Linked DNA regions of Homo sapiens: region 2 is linked to region 1. Evidence: fine-mapped expression QTL. A gene starts in region 1. The other region holds a variant in brackets. All regions are shown on one strand. Distances are from middle to middle. Region 1 holds the start of PPP1R16B (protein phosphatase 1 regulatory subunit 16B). Region 2 overlaps SLC32A1 (solute carrier family 32 member 1).

What was found.
Region 2: its variant is fine-mapped to the expression of PPP1R16B in whole blood (INTERVAL, PIP 0.91).

Annotation. Positions count from the first base shown.
Region 1 is chr20:38,802,130-38,810,764 of GRCh38, reverse strand. PPP1R16B (protein phosphatase 1 regulatory subunit 16B) reads right to left here and starts at 5,068. Exons shown (of 11, transcript NM_015568.4): 1 at 4,973-5,068. RefSeq lists enhancers at 1,873-1,922, 1,983-2,032, 3,612-4,450, 5,479-5,748, 5,031-5,892 and 1 more and silencers at 4,019-4,368, 4,429-4,648, 4,839-5,218.
Region 2 is chr20:38,726,380-38,735,014 of GRCh38, reverse strand. It overlaps SLC32A1 (solute carrier family 32 member 1), which reads right to left. Exons shown (of 2, transcript NM_080552.3): 2 at 5,643-7,563. The coding sequence ends at 6,376. Among named protein-coding and RNA genes, the nearest start is that of SLC32A1, 6.2 kb to the right of the region's middle. RefSeq lists enhancers at 2,986-3,511, 5,942-6,601, 7,262-7,922, 8,137-8,635 and a silencer at 7,535-7,829. The variant A/G (reference allele first, on the strand shown) is at 3,499.

The sequences.
Region 1 (8,635 bases):
ATAAGTGCATTCATTTCAACGGATTGGTATGAGAATTCAATGGCGATGCAAGTAAAGACCTTTGACAGTGACCAGCATCCAGAAATGCACTTGGTGCTATATCATGATCAATCAGTGAGTCAGGTCATGACGCTTCCTCCACTTCTACCCTCTTCTCTCAGGTGAGAAACTGAGTCCCAGGAAGAGAGAAACAAGTGCAGAGGTGGGAAAAGCATCTCAGGAAGAGGGAGTGGACCTCTTCTTCTTCGTGCTTCCTGGGTGGAATGAAGAGGGAAGGATGGTGAATGTATGGATAGTTGAGCAGAGACCAGCCCTTCCTCCCATGCAAAAGTTAATCCTGAAGTTTCCTGGACAACCCTCACTAGAGAACCACCCTCCAAGGAAGGTGCAGAGGGACTGCCTCGGGTCAGTGAGTGTTTAATCCTTCGGGGCTCCCGGCAGGATAGCCTCTGCTACCTCCCTGGCCTTGCTTCTGCCTCCATCAAACTTTCTCATGACTCTGCTCCATCAGCAACTCCTCCCACTGCTCTCCAAAAACATCCAGCACTTTTAAGCCTCGGTGCCTCTGCACATGCTGTTCTCCCGGCTAGGGCTGCCCTACCACCTGGAAAACTGTCACTGAAGGGCTCAACATGCTCCCACAGCAACTTTTGCCCACCTGTTATTGGCAATAATAGACTAATAATAGCAACGAACATCTGTGAGCACTTATTAATATCTAGAAAGCCCAAGCTGGGTTTTTAAGTTTTTTGGTTTTGTTTTTTTTTTTTTTTTTTTTTCGAAACAAGGTCTTACTCTGTTGCCCAGGCTAGAGTGCAGAGGTGCACGCAATCATGGCTCACAGGAGCCTCCACTTCCCCCGTTCAGGTGATTCTCCCACCTCAGCCTTCCAAGTAGCTGGGACTACAGGTGCACACCACCATGCCTGGCTAATTTTTTGTATTTTTTGTAGAGACGGGGTTTTGCCATATTGCCCAGGCTAGTCTCGAACTCCTGGAGTCAATCAGTCTGCCCACCTCTGCCTCCCAAATTGCTGGGATTACAGGCATGAGCCACCGCACCTGGTCCAAGCTAGGTTTTTTATCCACAGTGTCTCACTTCTCTCCTCACATCATCATCTTAGGGAGGTGGCTTATCTGCTTGAGAGGTAAGGCCTCTGTCCATCCTCACCCAGCTACAAGGTGGCAGCTTCAAGATTCAGACCTGGGTCAGCCTGAGCCATGTGGATCTGCTCGTCACTCTCTCTTCTTGCTGTTGCAGCCTTTATCCCACAGTGTCCTCATTATCTGTCTCCAGGCCTGCCTCTCCCCATAGAGGGAGAACTCTGAGAGCTGCCTCATTCATCTTGAAATCCCTTGCTAAGCACAAGGGCTGGGATGGAATAAACGTCTTTTGAATGAATCAATGAATCCTGGAAAATGGCAGTCAGCTGAGAAAGGCTAAGTGGCTGCTCACAGACTCCCCGGGGAAAAGCTGGTGCTAGACTCAAGTTCCCAGGAGTGAGCCCCCACCCCCGCCCCAGGAGACAGGCTGAGAGGCTTTCCCCGTCCTGATGGCTACAGGCAGAAGAGACAGGGTCGCACTCACTCCCCACCCTAGCACTGGAGGAGGTGGGACCTTTGAGAGTCCAACACAAAGGAGGAAATAGTAGTGATGGTGACAATGATCATTTCCTGCATTCCTACCCACACCAGATGCTGTACTGAGCACTTTTTTTTTTCTTTTTCTTTTTGAGATGGAGTCTCGCTCTGTCACCCAGGCTGGAGTGCAGTCATGTGATCTCGGCTCATTGCAACCTCCTGCTCCCGGGTTCAAGCAATTCTCGTGCCTCAGCCTCCCAAGTAGCTAGGACTACAGGCATGCGCCACCATGCTGCACTAATTTTTGTATTTTTAGTAGAGATGGGGTTTCACCATGTTGGCCAGCTGGTCTCGAACTCCTGACGTCTAGTGATCCTCCCGCCTTGGCCTCCCAAACTGCTGGGATTACAGGTGTGAGCCACTATGCTCCACCCTAGTACTGAGCACTTTCTATGTGTTAATGGTCTCATGGAATCCTTACAATCCCACAAAGTAGGCATTACTGTGATACCTATTTTACAAATGAGAAAACCAGACTCAGAGAGATTAAGTCATGTATACAGGGTCACAGAGCTTTTAGGTATAGATCCCTAATTAAAATTAGACCTCTCTGGCTCCCTCACTCTTCATACTCGTAGCTTTCTGTAAGAGGCAGGCTTGTCCGAGCCCTTCTTGAAGCCCAATTGCTAAGATGCACTCAGGACAGTGAAGGTTTTCCTGGTCTCTGCTGGAAGAGTGCCAGTTGGGACCTCCTGGTCAACAAATGTGACAAGAGTCCTGGGTGCAGGAGGGGTGGTGGCTAGGTTGGGAGAGGGGAGGGAAAGGTTGGGGGGATGGGGTCCCAAGAGTCCAAGCACAGCACCTGAATTCAGGTATGTGCCTTCTGCCTTCTCCTAAACCAGGTTGGCTGCAGCCTCTGTTGCTACACTTGGGGCATGGAGCTGGTTTTGAGAGGAGCTGAGCCCCAGTTTTCCCATCTGCAAAATGGGAATCAGTAATGCCTACTTCACGGGGTTGTGAGGATTCTGTGAGGCCATCACACATAGGCCTAGTTTCCAAAGGGCTCAAATGGGCTCTGCAGAAAGGAGAAAGGTTCTGGCTTTAAGGAAAAACCACCTGCCTACATCAGTATCCTCTTAGCCCTGTGGCTCAAGCTCCTGAAATGACTTAACAGCTAGATTAGAATTTAACCTCCACTCCGTCAATTACCAGGGAGAGCAAAGTCTGAGTGGGCACAGGGCCTTGCCTACCGTGTCTTTCTAGGCCATGGATGATCTGGAGAGCACAGATGGCACGGGGCCCTTGACACATGAACCACAGAGCCACTAATGAGTGTCACGGTGGTAGGAGACCAAAAGAGGGGAAAGAAGACATTACAGAGGCTGGGAAGAGCTGGAGCCAGGAAGGTTCCAGGACAGGGGAACACTGTTAGGTAGACCCCAGTAGACAAGTAGGCACAGAGTTGACAGTCCAGGGTGGCCTGGTTGACATCTTGCCCCCAGCATCCTGGGGACTCAGCCAGGAAGATGGGATTTGGGTGACAGGTGGGAGAGAAGGGCATGGGAGATTTGTGTGGGAAGGGCCGTGTGAGCAGGCAGCCGGCTGGAAGGATTTGCTGGCCCCCACCGGCCTCCTGCAAGCTGGCTTTTTATGACAGAGCTGGGGGAGGAAGATGTGGAAACTCCCCCAGCCCCTGCAGAACCACCCACCAGGGCTCCACTTCTGCACCTGTCTAAGAGAGACACGCCCCACTCAAAGCCAATCCCGAGGGCGGCCAGTATTGGCCAAGGAGTGTTCATCCTCCCGCTCTGCTGCACCCAGCCTCTCCCTCATCTCCCCACAGCCTGGCGGCTGTTAGCCCCGTATCTTAGAGGCAGTTGAGACTCCAGAAGCCAAGTACCTTGCCCACGAGTAGACAGCTAGTCGCTGGCTGGGCTAAGAAGCTTTATTACCAGCCTTGGAGGAGGCCTCCTAGATGGACGGTTTTTCTCCGGTGCTTCACCAGCCGCAGGAAATGGCAGGGTACACAGGGAAGTACCCCTGCGGACTGAGGCCGCCATCGGCAGGCCCTTTCCAGGGAGAGCCCTGCGGGAAAGGGCGCCTGTACCTCCGGGCCCCGGGTCCTCCACAGAGGGTGATTCAGAGGCGGCACCTGGTGTCCAGAGCCGCGGAGAGCTGGGGGGCTCTTCTGACAGTGAAAACAGGGGCCCTTTATGTGAAATGCAATCACATGGGCGCGCAGGCAGCTCGGTTTTCGGTTCCTAGAAGCGCTGATGAAGCCACATCCCTCTCCCTCCGCTCCTGAGGTGCCCGGGAGCACCGGGACCCAGGCCTGGCGCGCGGCAGCGGCGCAGCCCTGGGGTCTCAGGAGGGCCAGATTCAAAGCTCTCCCAGGCTCAATTATCCTCCAAGGGCTGGGAGCTGCATCATCAGCATCTCCAGTGAAGCTGGAGGCCGGGCCGGGGTGGGGGAGCGGAGGAAGGGAGTCTACATGGGGGAAGGAGGAGGGCAGCGAGCGCCTGCCTCCCGGCTCTCCACCCGGGGCGGTCTGGGCAGCTCAGCCTGGGCACTCCGGGTGACCTTGGGGAGACCCCTCTGGGCGACCTCTCAGGGGCGGCTGCACGTCTCCGCCCATCCTCGGCGCCCGGGGGCGCTCCTCTGGGCCGGAATCGATGAGCCGGAGTCGCCCAGAGGGGAGCGCTCCTGGCGCGGGGGACCCAGCCGCCGGCGCACGGGGCCCTGGGAGAGGCCGGGCGCGCCCCTCCCGGGGAACTACCACTCGCGGGGTCTCCCCGGGCTGGCTGGTGCTGTCAGCCGGATCCTGAGGCGGGGCGGGTCTGCAGGTGGAGGCGCCTGCCTTGGGGATCTTTCCCGCCCGGGCAGGAGCGCTCTCTGCGCCCTGCCGCTGCCCGCCAGGACCAAGCCCCGCCACGCGAGGGGGCGGCACCACCATGCCCGGCCGGGAGAGTGCGCGGGGGGGGGTTGTTTGGTGTCCGCTGTGGCTCCCGCCGCCCGGCATTGCACCCCCGGCAGACGGCGGCCCCATGAGTCCAGAACAGACCGAGGACCCCACCTCCCCGCCCCAAGATCGGTCTACGACGGCCGCAGCCAACAACCTGCCAATGCGCCCCCTCCCCTGGCCTCGTCAAGGAATTGCGAGGCCGGGGAGAACGCCCCCATTCCAGCCCGACTCCCGGACCTAGCGCTCTCGGTACCCGTCTTTCCAGAGTCCCCACACTCCCATTTATCTCAAGCTATCGTCCCTTGGCCAAAGCGCCCCGGCCCCCAGCTAGGTGATAGCAGGCTGGGACCACCTCCCCGCCCCATCCTCATCCCCCGCCCTGCGAAGCCGCAGAGCGCAAGGAGGGTGGTGGCGCCGCCGGGGAACTCACCCGCTCTCCCGAGCCCTGCCCCGGGCGGCTCCCGACCCCGGCTGTGTCTGTGGGTCCCCGAGCCGCAGCTGCTCCAGCGGCGACAGAGCTGGCTCTGCTCGGCCGCGAGCCTCCGCGCCGCCTCTCGGCTCCTCCCCCAAGGCGGGGCCTGAGCTCCTGGGACTGGGGTGGGCGCGCTCAACCCCATCCGGCTTGGGAGGCAGCGCGGGACAGGGTCCCGGCGCTCTCGGGTGGGGACCCCTCTTCTGAGCTGCAGGAAGTTGAAACCGGTTGGGACGTGGCCAGGCTTCGGAATAGTTTTCCTAACGCTGCCCCCTCCTCCAAAATAGTTTTCCTAACCCCCACCCCGACCATGGAAAGAGGGAAGCCAAGGACGGTATCCCTGCTCCCATTTGACAGACGGGAATCCTGAAGCCCAGAGAGGAGTGGTAACCTGCTCAAGGTCACACAGAATGAATGCCAGGGCCAGGAACTCAGGGTTCCTAGCTTGAAGGCCTGCGCGGCCTGAGTCTGAAGGCTTCCCAGGAGGTCCAGGGGCCGGCCCTGGCCTTGCGCTGGGGACAGATCTGTGGGGCCAGGTCCCCCAGCTGCTGGGGCCGAGACATGGGGGCTGTGGCCTGCGGTGTGGACTCGCATCATTTCCTCTTTCTGGAAAGAAGGGAGGTGAAGCGCTGGAGGAAGGAAGTGGTCGTACCTCTGCTGACGTCTGACGCCCTTTGAGATGTGCAGGATGAAGATAGGGGCTGCTTCCCTGAGATTTAACGCTAAAAATAAAAAGCAAAACATACCCGGTGGCTTCTGTCACCTCATTCAAGCCTCTTTCTGGGGCTGAAGGCCTCTGCACTCTGTGCACCAGCCTTTCTTTACAACACAATGGGTTTAACTATTTAAGTTGCTGAGAGTCACCCCCCACCATCACCACCCCAGGAAGAGAAAAGAAAGTTCATAAACAAAGCAGAGAAAACCTCCCCAAACATTCTCTGGAATCCACATTTGCTGAACCCTGGCCTTAGAACAATAGGTTTCTCTTCTCCACAAAGGCCTTGTTTCCTGAGCTTTCCCGGCCTACAGATGAGAGCCCTAGGCACCCCAGGGCCAGCCAGCTGGGGAAATTCAGAGTTTAAGTTTGGGGAGTTTGGGGATGGTACCCAGTTAATTTGATTCTCAGCTGTCATGTTTGAGGAACTCGCCCGAATCCTTTTTTTTTCACTGGCAATATTCTTTTGAGGCCACCAGCATCACCTGAGTTTAGTGATTTTCTGTTTGCTCAGTCACCTTTCTTGGGGGAGAGAAAATCTGTGGGTTGAACTTGTTCCAGGCCCCCAGGCCCTCTCCAGGAACTCTGTAAGCCCCCTTCATTGGCTCCCTGGCTCCCTCTCAGTTCATTAATAATCCAGTTGTGAATGACACTGTTTCAGGAAAAGCAATTAGACAGTAGAGCATGTGGGGAAGACTTAAAGCCATGTTTAAAATAACCCAAGGGAATCATTGTTCTCCGAAGAATGTTTCCATTGATTGATAATGAAGAGCCATGGGCTGAGAGGATGGGAACCCATCTCTCCAAGGCTTGTGTGGCACTTGGGGCCTGTGTTCCTAAAATAAGGCCTTTGGAGGGAGGGGGCTCCCAACTCCAATGTCATGCTGTTCATTCACCTCTCACACTGTGTTCGGTATCAAAAGTTAAAGTAAATTCAGAATAAGTTGGGGGACTCACAAGTCCTGATTTCAAAACTTACTAGGAAACTTCAGTCATCAAGGCAGGGTGGTACGGGTATAAGGATGGGCATACAGACCAATGGAATAAAACTGAGAGTCCAGACAGAAGCCCTTACACTTACTGCCAATTGATTTTCAACAAGAGTGCCAAGACAATTTAATGGGGAAAGAATAGTGTTTTCAAAAAATGGTGCTGGGACAACTGGATATCCACATGCAAAAGAATGAATTTGGATCCCTGCTTCATACTATATGCAACATATAGATCTAAATGTAAGAGCTAAAACTATAAAACTCTCTGAAGAAAACATAAGCCTAAATCTTCATGACTTTGGATTAAACAGTAGTTGCTTAGATATTAGCACAAGCAACAAAAGAAAAAAAAATAGATAAATTAAAAACTTTTGTGCTTTCAGGGGTATCATCAAGAAAGTGAAAAGTTATGGCTGGGCCTGGTGGCTCACACCTATAATCCCAGCATTTTGGGAGGTGGAGATAGGAGGATTACTTGAGGCCAGGAGCTCAAGACCAGCCAGGGCAACATAGTGAAACTCTGTCTCTACAAATTCTTTTAAAATTAGGCAGACGTAGTGGTTCATGATTGTAGTCCTAGCTATTTAAGAGGATTGCTTTTGCCTAGGAGTTCAAGGCTGCAGTGAGCTATGATGGTGCTACTGTACTCCCGCCTGGGTGACAGAGCAAGACCCTGTCTCTAAAAAAAAAAAAAAAAAAAAATTAAACATAAAAAGAACAAAAAGAGAGTGAAAAAATAACTGTTATAAGCTGAATTGTGTGCCCCCTCACCCCCATTCATATGCTGAACTGTACTGGTTACAGTCTCAGAACCTCAGAATGTAACTGTGGATGGAGATAAGGTCTTTAAAGAGGTGATCATCTTAAACTGAGGCCCTTGGATGGGGCCCTCATCCAATGACTGGTGTCCTCATAAGAAGAGACACTAGAGATGCGCCACACAGAGGAAAGACCAGAGGAAGGCACAGGGAGAAGAAGGTTAATTACAAACCAAGGAGAGAGGACTCAGGGCTGGGGGACCAGACCTGCCAACACCTTGATCTCAGAATTGTAGCCTTCAGAATTGTGAGGAATAAATTTCTGGGGGTTTGTTTTGTTTTGTTTTTTTGACATAGAGTTTCACTCTGCTGCCCAGGGTGGAGTGCAGTGGCACGATCTTGGCTTACTGCAACCTCCACCTCCCAGGTTCAAGCGATTCTCCTGCCTCAGCCTCCTGAGAAGCTGGGATTACAGGTGCATGCCCCCACGCTCGGCTAATTTTTGTATTTTTAGTAGAGTAAGGGTTTCACCATGTTGGCCAGGCTGGTCTCAAACTCCTGACCTCAAGTGATCCACCCACCTCGGCCTCCCAAAGTGCTGGGATTACAGGTGTGAGCCACCGCACCCAGCCAATTTCTGTTGTTTAAGCCACCCAGTCTATAGTATTATGTTATGGCAGCCTTGGCAAAATAATACAATATCCCACAGAACGGGAGGAAATATTTGCAAATCATATTCCTGGTAAGGGACTTATATCTAGAATATATAAGGAACTCTTACAACTCTATAATAAAGAGACAAATAATAAAAAATGGGCAAGGAGCCTGGGCAACATGGCAAAACCCTGACTCTACTAAAAATACAAAAAGTTAACTGGGCATGATGGCATGGGCCTGTAGTCCCAGCTACTGGGGAGGCTGAGGTGGGAGGATTGTTTGAACCTGGGAGGCAGAGGTTGCGGTGAACCAAGATCACACCACTGCACTCCAGCCTGGGCGACAGAGCGAGACCCAGTCTCAAAAAAAAAAAAAAAAAAAAAAAAAAAAAAAAAGGCCAAGGGATCTGGATAGACATTTCTTCAAAGAAGATAGATATACACATGGCCAAGATGCTCAACATCATTAGCAATGAAGGAAATGCAAAGCCACAATGAGA
Region 2 (8,635 bases), 76 kb after region 1:
CTCATTCTTTTCCTCCTTCTCTTCATTTGCTTGACTTTTTTTTTTTTTTTTTTTTTGAGAAATAGTCTCACTCTTGTCCCCCAGGCTGGAATGCAGTGGTGCGATCTCGGCTCACTGCAACTTCCGCCTCCTGGGTTCAAGCGATTTTCCTGCCTCAGCCTCCCGAGTAGCTGGGACTACAGGTACACGCCACCATGCTCGGCTAATTTTTGTAGTTTTAGTAGAGACGGGGTTACACCATGTTGGCCAGGCTGGTCTCAAACTCATGACTTCAGGTGATCCGCTCTCCTTGGCCTCCCAAAATGCTGGGATTACAGGCGTGAGCCTCCACATCTGGCCTGCCTGACCTTTAAATATTGCTGTTATCCAAGGTCACTGGCCCGGTGCTTTTTAAATGTTCATGCACTCTCCTGGTTGACCTCATAGTTTCTGTGACTTTAGTACTATTAATGTGTCGATAGTTTTCTGAAAATACATTATTTATTTGAACATAATTTATTAAGAACATTCTGTATATCAGGTCTGTGTTAGATAGTGGAGATCCAGTAGGGTGCCAAACAGAGAATATCTCTGCCCTTGTGGAGTTTACTAAAGTTTGTTGCTATGGACCTGTTTATGTTTCCTTCTTTTCTTCCTTTCATCCATGGACCATTTATTGGTCCACCATTCATCTATAATCCATTTTTTTCCTTCACTCACTGATTCATCTATTCATTGGCTCAACCATCCAACCCTTGACCTCAAAGCATTTACTAATCCATCCATCTATTCATCCATCCATCCACCACCCTCCCATTGACCAAACCTTCTCAATATTAGTGGTCCCAAGCCAGTGGCACGTTGGGAACTTGAAAGAAGGAGGAAGAAGAGGAGGAGGGGGTTGAGGAGGAGGAAGAGAAGGAGGAGAAAGGTCTTTCTGAATCTGAATCTAGGGGTTTTGTGGGGAGCAGGAATTTCTAGAAAGCTCCCCATTTTATTCTGATTCACCCAGCCTGGCACCTGCCTATGGAAAGATATTTGGGGACCACTATATTACATTAGAAGCACTGTGAATATAGGATCTTCATTTACCTTTCCCTAAAAGTAGACCCTAAGACAAAGATTCAGATGCAGTCAATTTATGTGGGAGGTGAACCTTGAAAGTAGGGAAAGGAAGAAAAGGAAGGGGGAAAGGCCAAATAAAGATTGCTTTGATGAGCTTGTGGACACCTGAGGTTCAATCCTGCTGGGGACCCTCCAAGATACCTTGTGGAATAGACCTAAAATGGTCCCATCACAGGACAGGAGACAGGCATTTATTGCCAATTGATTGAGCACTAGGGGCTGTTAGCTGCCCGACAATTCCAAGTCATGCTCCCAAGGTAGCCTAGAAAGCCCTCAGGGAGATGAGGAGAGATGGAGGCACTGGCAGTGGTTCATGTTCCACAGCTTCAGGTAAACTTAGGTGCATCTAGGGAACATAGGGTGGGCACTGACAACTACCAGAGAGGCCATGTCTGTCTTGTTTCCTGTTGCATTCCCACACATTAGACCTTAGCCTAGTGTGTGGCCTAGAGTGGGTGCTTAACAAATATTTGATAAATAAATCTTGTTTAACTACCAGACCTTGAAACAGGAACTGAATCACACTAACAATTCCTTTAATTGTGCTCTCCCTTCTAGCTGCACCGCCTTCCCTTCTAGACACCACCAACCCCTCTATAGCATCCTCAGCCTTTTCACCCTGTTTCCATCCCACCCCCAAGAGGGTTGCTGGAAGCTTCTGGAATCGTAAAGCTCCCTCCACCCCACCCGCTATGTGACTCTGCTGGACCATGCTGCTGGGTGTCCCTGGTCAGAGGCTCTGCTCTCACTGTGCCTTCCTGGACTCCACAACTGGCAGAGATGGTGCCCAAAGCATCACTGTGGAACCAGCTATAGTCAGACTCTTGAAAAATCTCAATCCAAATCTCCCGGGGGGGCAGAGCTCATCTCCCAGGCCTGGCCTCACATCCAGGACCAGGATTAGCATGAGGCAAGTGAGGCATTTCCTTTGGTAGCAAAATTTAAGAGGGTGCAAAAAATCCAGAAAGCAATATAAATAAAATTTTAATGCAATATTTTTTAAAAATCAAAATTAATGCAAAAGTGAACCATAACGTTCAAAATAATGTAAGCAAAATAACAATATCTGAGGTAAAGAAAGGATGGATATTGCTTTTTTTGCCTTGGTCTCCAGTGTGGCTCAGATTAGTGCTGTACTGATGCTGTGCTATCTGAATGTCACTGTTACTTGTCCTGAAAGCTTAAAAATTTGGGAGGGGTGGCTGGGCACAGGGGTTCATGCCTATAATCCCAGCACTTTGGGAGGCTAAGGCAGGGGGATTGCTTGAGCCCAGAGTTTGAGACCAGCCTGGGGAACATGATGAGACTCTGTCTCTACAAAAAATTTAAAAATTAGCTGAAAATGGTAGCACATGCCTTGCCTGTGGTGTCAGTTGCTCGGGGGGCTGAGGTGGGAGGATCACTTGAGCCCAGGAGGTCAAGGTTGCAGTGAGCTGTGTTCTCACCACTGCACTCCAGCCTGGGTGACAGACCGAGACCCTGTCTCAAAAATGATAATAATTATTTGGGAGGGAAATATACTGATGTCTGCAACTTTTGAATGTTGTTTTTTTTTTACAGGTAGACTGTTGGATGGATAGATGGATAGGTATGGGGTAGATACAGTGTTTTAAACTGTTAATCATCCAGTCTAGGCGGCGGTGGGTGTGGGTGTATGTATGTTCAGTGTGGAATTCTTTCACCTTTTCTATACATTAGAAATTCTTCATAATCTTGAAAAGGAAAAAACGAAAGAGCTATGAGAAGGACACCCAAGGCTGGCTCTCTGAGGTCAAACAAGTGCAACGAATGAATCCTTGGCTGTCCAGGACTGAGTACCCTACCACACCCTCACTCATGGTGAGGATGGAGCCCACCTAGGGACCTGCCCCCTCCTTGACCAAAGCCTCTCTCTGGCTCTTGTCCCTGAAGTCCCCTCTAGAATAGCAAGGCCTGGATCCTCTCCACTTCCTGGATGGCCCCCATGGAGCCTGTTTGGCTCCCTCCCTACCAGGTCTTTAAGTGAGGAACACTCAGTCCCTGGGATAAGACGGTGTCATATAACAAAACATGTTCAATAATAAGCATCCATCCATGTTTGGGGAAAAATGACTAAAAACTTTTGTAATGTTGAGGACCTGAAATAAAGCACTAGAAAGAAGCAATGCTTATCAACTAAGCAGGAGGTGGGGTAGGGGGAGACAAGAAGCATTTAGGACTAGGGTGGAGAACCGTCCTTGCGGGCCGGCAGTTTGCGCTCTCACCGCTAGGGGGCGAGGCAGGGCGGTCTTGGGACCGTGCGATCGCGATCCTGGGTTCCGCCGGCGCACGTGGGTCTTGGTGGTTCCAGGTCCTGGCCCCAAGGCAAGGGGCCAGGTACACCTACACACTTATGCTGCGGACCCAGGTGGGGAC[A/G]GCTTACAGGGTCTGCAGCACGTCCAGCTAGGGTGCCCCATAAGAACTGATGTGAGCCCTGTGGGGCTGACGCGGATTCCTCCTCTCCTTCTCAATCCGATCCCAGAATGAGCCTTGCCAGAACTATCTGCTCTCTTGGACTTGCACAGCGAGCCCACTGCGAGGAAAGCTGGGACTTCTTCCTTTCAACATCTACCTTTACGCTTTAGTGATGGTGGAGGTGGGGGTAGATGGGTGGGGGAGATGAGAGGTGCAGAGACGGGTGCCATCCACTCCTCCTCCTTATTTCTCTCAGTAGCCTGGATGCGAGTCCGGGTATCGGTGTCCTACCGACCAGGGTTTCGGGTTTCCCTTGGGCGTCTAGGGTGCTAGTTCTCCCGCCCCTGCCACCCTCAGGATTCGCCCCCTAGGACAAGAGACGCTGCAAGCTGAGCACAAAACCTGGAGCCAGGATTAGTGGAGCGGATCCAGGCGAGCCCGCAGAGTTGGCGCCGCTATCCGGAGCCTGCCTAGTGTCTCCTTCGACCTTTTAAAGACGGGAAGGACAGAGATGGTGCAGCGTGACGCTCCCACCTTCCCTTCCACCATAGAAGTCCGGGATTTTTCTGAAGGCGACACACTGACTCGGAGAGCACCCCAGGGTCCGTGGACCCGCTGAGAAACCTTGGGAGTTGGGGCGGGGGAAGAACAATCAGCTCCCCACCCCACCCCTCGGCCCCAGGCCTGGGAGACGTCAGTGGTCATGGGAAGACGAGAAACTGAGGACCCTTCAGCCAGTGCCGGATCCTGAACACGCGACAATAGTGACCCCGGGGAATTAGGCCGAAGGTAGCGGACTTCTCAGATGGCCCGTTTTAAAGCATTAGAGCCACAGTGATGGCTGAGGACACCGGGTCCTATCCCTCCTCCCTTCCCACTCCAGGTCTGTGGCCGCAGAACCAGGGTGATGCGAGGTCACCTCTGTCGCAGGCGCTTTAGGGAGCACGCCCACCCGGATGCTCGGCACACACGCACACACGCACACACACTTACCAAGGTTCTCACAACACACGATGCAGCCTGCCCCACCCCACACGCATATCTTCACCTAGCCTCTCACATGCCCCTTGCAAGCGGGCGGGGAGCAACACACACCCTACTTAGGCATTCTCCCTGGCTTCTTTCCCGTGCACCATTCGCACCTGGAGAAGTCGTTCCTAACGAAGCCTCTGCCTCCGTGGTGACAGCGGACCCTGGAACCCACCCAGCGGACTTGCACTCCCAGCTCCCACCCAGAAAGTCTGACTCTGACCTTTCCCAACAGTCCCTGGACTGGCCCTCCTGGAGTCAGTGCAGGTGCTGCGCCTGGAGTGGGATCAGCACAAAAAAGACTAGATCTTTCGGGTAATTCAGGCAAACACTTTATCAGACAGGCTGCGCAAGATAGGGGGAGACTGGGACCCTACAACTTGAGGCTGTTGATTCTAGAGTCAGATCTCTTTGCTATGGCTGTGCAAACCCCACCTTGGATTGCACGGCAGGGTTCTCCTGGGTGGCAGATGCCTCCTGCCGGGCCAGATTGGCTCGTGGCTCTGGGGACCTGGTGAAAGGCACAGCCCACTTCTGACTTCCTTTGTAGCCCTCTTCACAATCTGAAGTCACGTTGTGGATTCCTGCCTGTCCTTGTTTATTGCCTGTCTCCACCTCACTAGACTGTAAGCTCCCGGAAGGCAAGGCTGAGTTTCTTTCCCCAGGTTTCCAACACTGCCCCAGCCCTGATTGGCTGTTTATAAATATTTGTTGAACAAATTTATAAAGTTCTGGTACATAAAAGCTCCCCCTGTCCCTCTCTGTTTTGAGGTTGGAAGTTGAGAGCTTCCACCAAATTCTCAGATGGACCCGCCCCCAGGGGAGAGATTCGAACAAACCTCGACCTGGCAGCTGAGGGGGCCGCTACAGCACTCTCCGTCTTCAGCTTCCTCCTCACACCTGAGGAGCCTCCTCGCCGCCAACTAATCTTTGTACTCCCTAGAGCCCTCCCCGGACCCTTTAACCACAGCTGCTCACCATCTCCGGTTTCAGCCGGCGGGAGCCAGTTCCCACGCCTCCCAGCGCCAGGGGATCCCGGCTGGTACGAACACACAAACCCGACACCGGGCCGCGCAAGCCTTTGTCTCTTCTTTATTTGCGGATATAATTATGTACCGCACTCTAAATTAGAGATAGATTTTTTTCTGATATACATTTCATCTTATTCACCACGAGCACACCACACGCACAGTAGAACAGTTCCACACCTGATAAATTGCACAAGATGAGAGTTTAGATTCCTGAAAACCGGCAGGCAAGCTGGCCCCGCCGCGGCTTCTCGCCTTCCGGCTTCGTTGAAGGAAATTGCCCACCCAAAATGGATTTCCCAGTCAGCCTTTCCCGCTGCAGGGTTGAAACGTCTCCGGAATGGGAAGCGCTCTTGCTGGAAATGGCTGGACGCTGTAGATTCCGAGCTCTGGATGGATGTGAAATATTCCCCCAAGGTCAAGTTGCCACGCCTGCGAGCTGCGCCCCCTCTCCCTCCCTTCCCAACCCCCTCGATGACTGGAACCAAAGTGTCGGGGCCCCACTTGGAAGGACAGAGAACCCTGCCCGCAAATGCACCCCGCCTCCCCCCAAAACCAGGGTGTTGTGGAAAAGAAAGGACAACAGAAACGCAGACGCGATGGATCGTGAATCCCTGTCCCCTCCCATCCCCCCCATCCCCGAATAATCAGAAACTAGGAACCAGAGATGTTTAAAGCTTGGCCTCCCAAGCGCGGCGGCAGGGCGCACTGGGCTGGTGGGGGCGGGGTGAGGGGAGAAGGGAGAGAGCGCAGAAGCGCGGCGGGGGCTCGCCCTTGCGCCCTAGTCCTCCGCGTTGGTTCGGTAGGCTTCGATGAGGCCCTCGAGGGAGTGCACGAAGCCGGACACGCTGCAGATGCCGCCGATGACGAAGATGGCGACGTCGAAGAAGACTTGGTGCCACAGCAGCTTGCGCCAGAGCAGGCGCAGGTGAAAGAGGCTGGGCAGCAAGAAACAGAGGCCGGCGCCCGTGAGGCTGCCGGTGAGGCCCATGAGCAGCGCGAAGTGCGGCACATAAATGGCCATGAGCAGCGTGAAGACGACGAGCGCGCAGCGCAGCGTCAGCCCCCAGGACTTCAGGCGCCCGTCGCCGCTGTAGCAGGCCGGGAAAAAGGCGCGGCTGCCTTCCTGGAAGAGCGACTTCTCCAGCACCTCGACAGCGGCAAAGAATGGCAGAGGATAGGACAACAGCGCCTTGGCCACCAGAAAGATGTTGACCACGGCGCGGATGGAGCCGGGCAGGTTATCCGTGATGACCTCCTTGGTCTCGTCGGCCCAGGTGAGGTAGGCGACGAGCGCGAAGAGGCCCTTGAGCACGCAGGCTGCGATGTGCGTCCAGTTCATCATGCAGTGGAACTCGCTGGGCTGCTGCATATTGCCCTCCAGCGAAGGCAGGAAGATCTGAGACGTGTAGCTGAACACGATGATGCCAATGGAGATGGGGAACTTCTTGACGTCGATGTAGAACTTGACCTTCTCCCAGGCCCAGTCGCGCGCCCGCGATAGACAGTAGGCTATGACCAGGATATTGATGACGAAGTGGGCCAGAGTGCACAGCAGACTGAACTTGGACACGGCCTTGAGGTTCTTAAGGAAGGCGCAAGGCAGCAGCACGGCCGTGGCGATAATGGACCAGGACTTCTGCGACACGGGCAGCCCCGGGAAGCTGTTGTACATGAGGTTGCCACTCACCACCACGTACAGGATGCACGTCATCACCAGCTCGATGATCTGCGCTACGTTCACCACTCGGCCGCCCAGCGTTGGGAAGCGCGGGGCGCAGCAGGCGTTGGCTATGGCCACGTACGAGTCCCGCACGCGCACCACCTCGCCGTCTTCATTCTCCTCGTACAGGCACGCGATGAGGATCTTGCCGGTGTAGCAGCACACAACGGCGGCGAAGATGATGAGAAACAACCCCAGGTAGCCGCCGTGCAGGATGGCGTAGGGTAGGCCCAGCACGAACATGCCCTGTGGGGCGGAGAGGCAACCAGACGCGGACGCTCAGCGAACTTGGCAACGGATGAGGGGCCCGGGGGGCGTGGCTTAACGCTGTGGCCCGAAGGGGGCGCTAAGGACACTGAGAATTGGGTCTGAGCCGCCGGGGAGGAGAGGTTAAGAGCAGGCTGCGGGGTGGATGTAGGGGAACTAATAGTGAGCCCGGGTGTCGAGCCAGAGATGGAGAGGGAGGGATGTATGGACGGATCTGAGAAGGAAAGGTGCGCTAATGGCTGGTGATAGCGAGAGGGCTAGGGTGGGAGAGGGCTGAGAATAGGGAGAAGCCACAGGAGGGAAGGGAGATACTTCGGGATGGTTTCTGGGGACAGGAACAGAATGAGGAGTTGGGGGAGGAGATGAGAAGGGACAGAAGGGAGCGTAGTCGGAAAGGGGCTCTAAGAAAGGTAGTGAGCTGGGCCTGGGCCAGTGGAAAGAGTGGGCACGGGATTTGTGGTGGGGCTGGAATGGGGCACGGGAGCTAAAGAGGAAAACTCGGGCGTCTCAGGCTCAGACCAGAGGAGGAAACGTTAAAGGCTGCAGTTGTGAGGCGAAAAGGAAATAGGGTAGAGAGGGAGAGGGGCTGAAGGTGGGGCAAAGCCCCTGGGAGGCAAGAACAGAGACAATGTGAAGACGCTTGGGGAGCAGCGCGCGGGGAGGAGGAAGCAGGGCTGGAAATTGAGAGTCTTAGGACAAGGCTGGAGTTAGAGTGAGGCGAGGGCGAGACCTAAGGAAGGGGACTAAGTGGAGGCTGGGGAGGCAAGCAGGAGGAGGAGCTTGGCGGGAAGGCGCCAGGGAGGCCAGAAAGCCGAACCGAGCAAGAGTCTAGAACCAGAAGCTTCAGGGTCAGGCGGACAGGGCTGTAGGGTTTAGAATCCACACGGGGACTAAGAGCTAACGAAATCCAGGGTCCCGGAGGCCTACGAGCCTCCAGCCTCCTGCCCTGGCCTCCCTTGGGGCCTATCAAACGGAGCCTTGAAAGACGCCCCGGGAAGTCGCGGGGCACAGCGAAGGCGGGAGCAGCCCCGGGTCCGTGATCCAGCAAGGC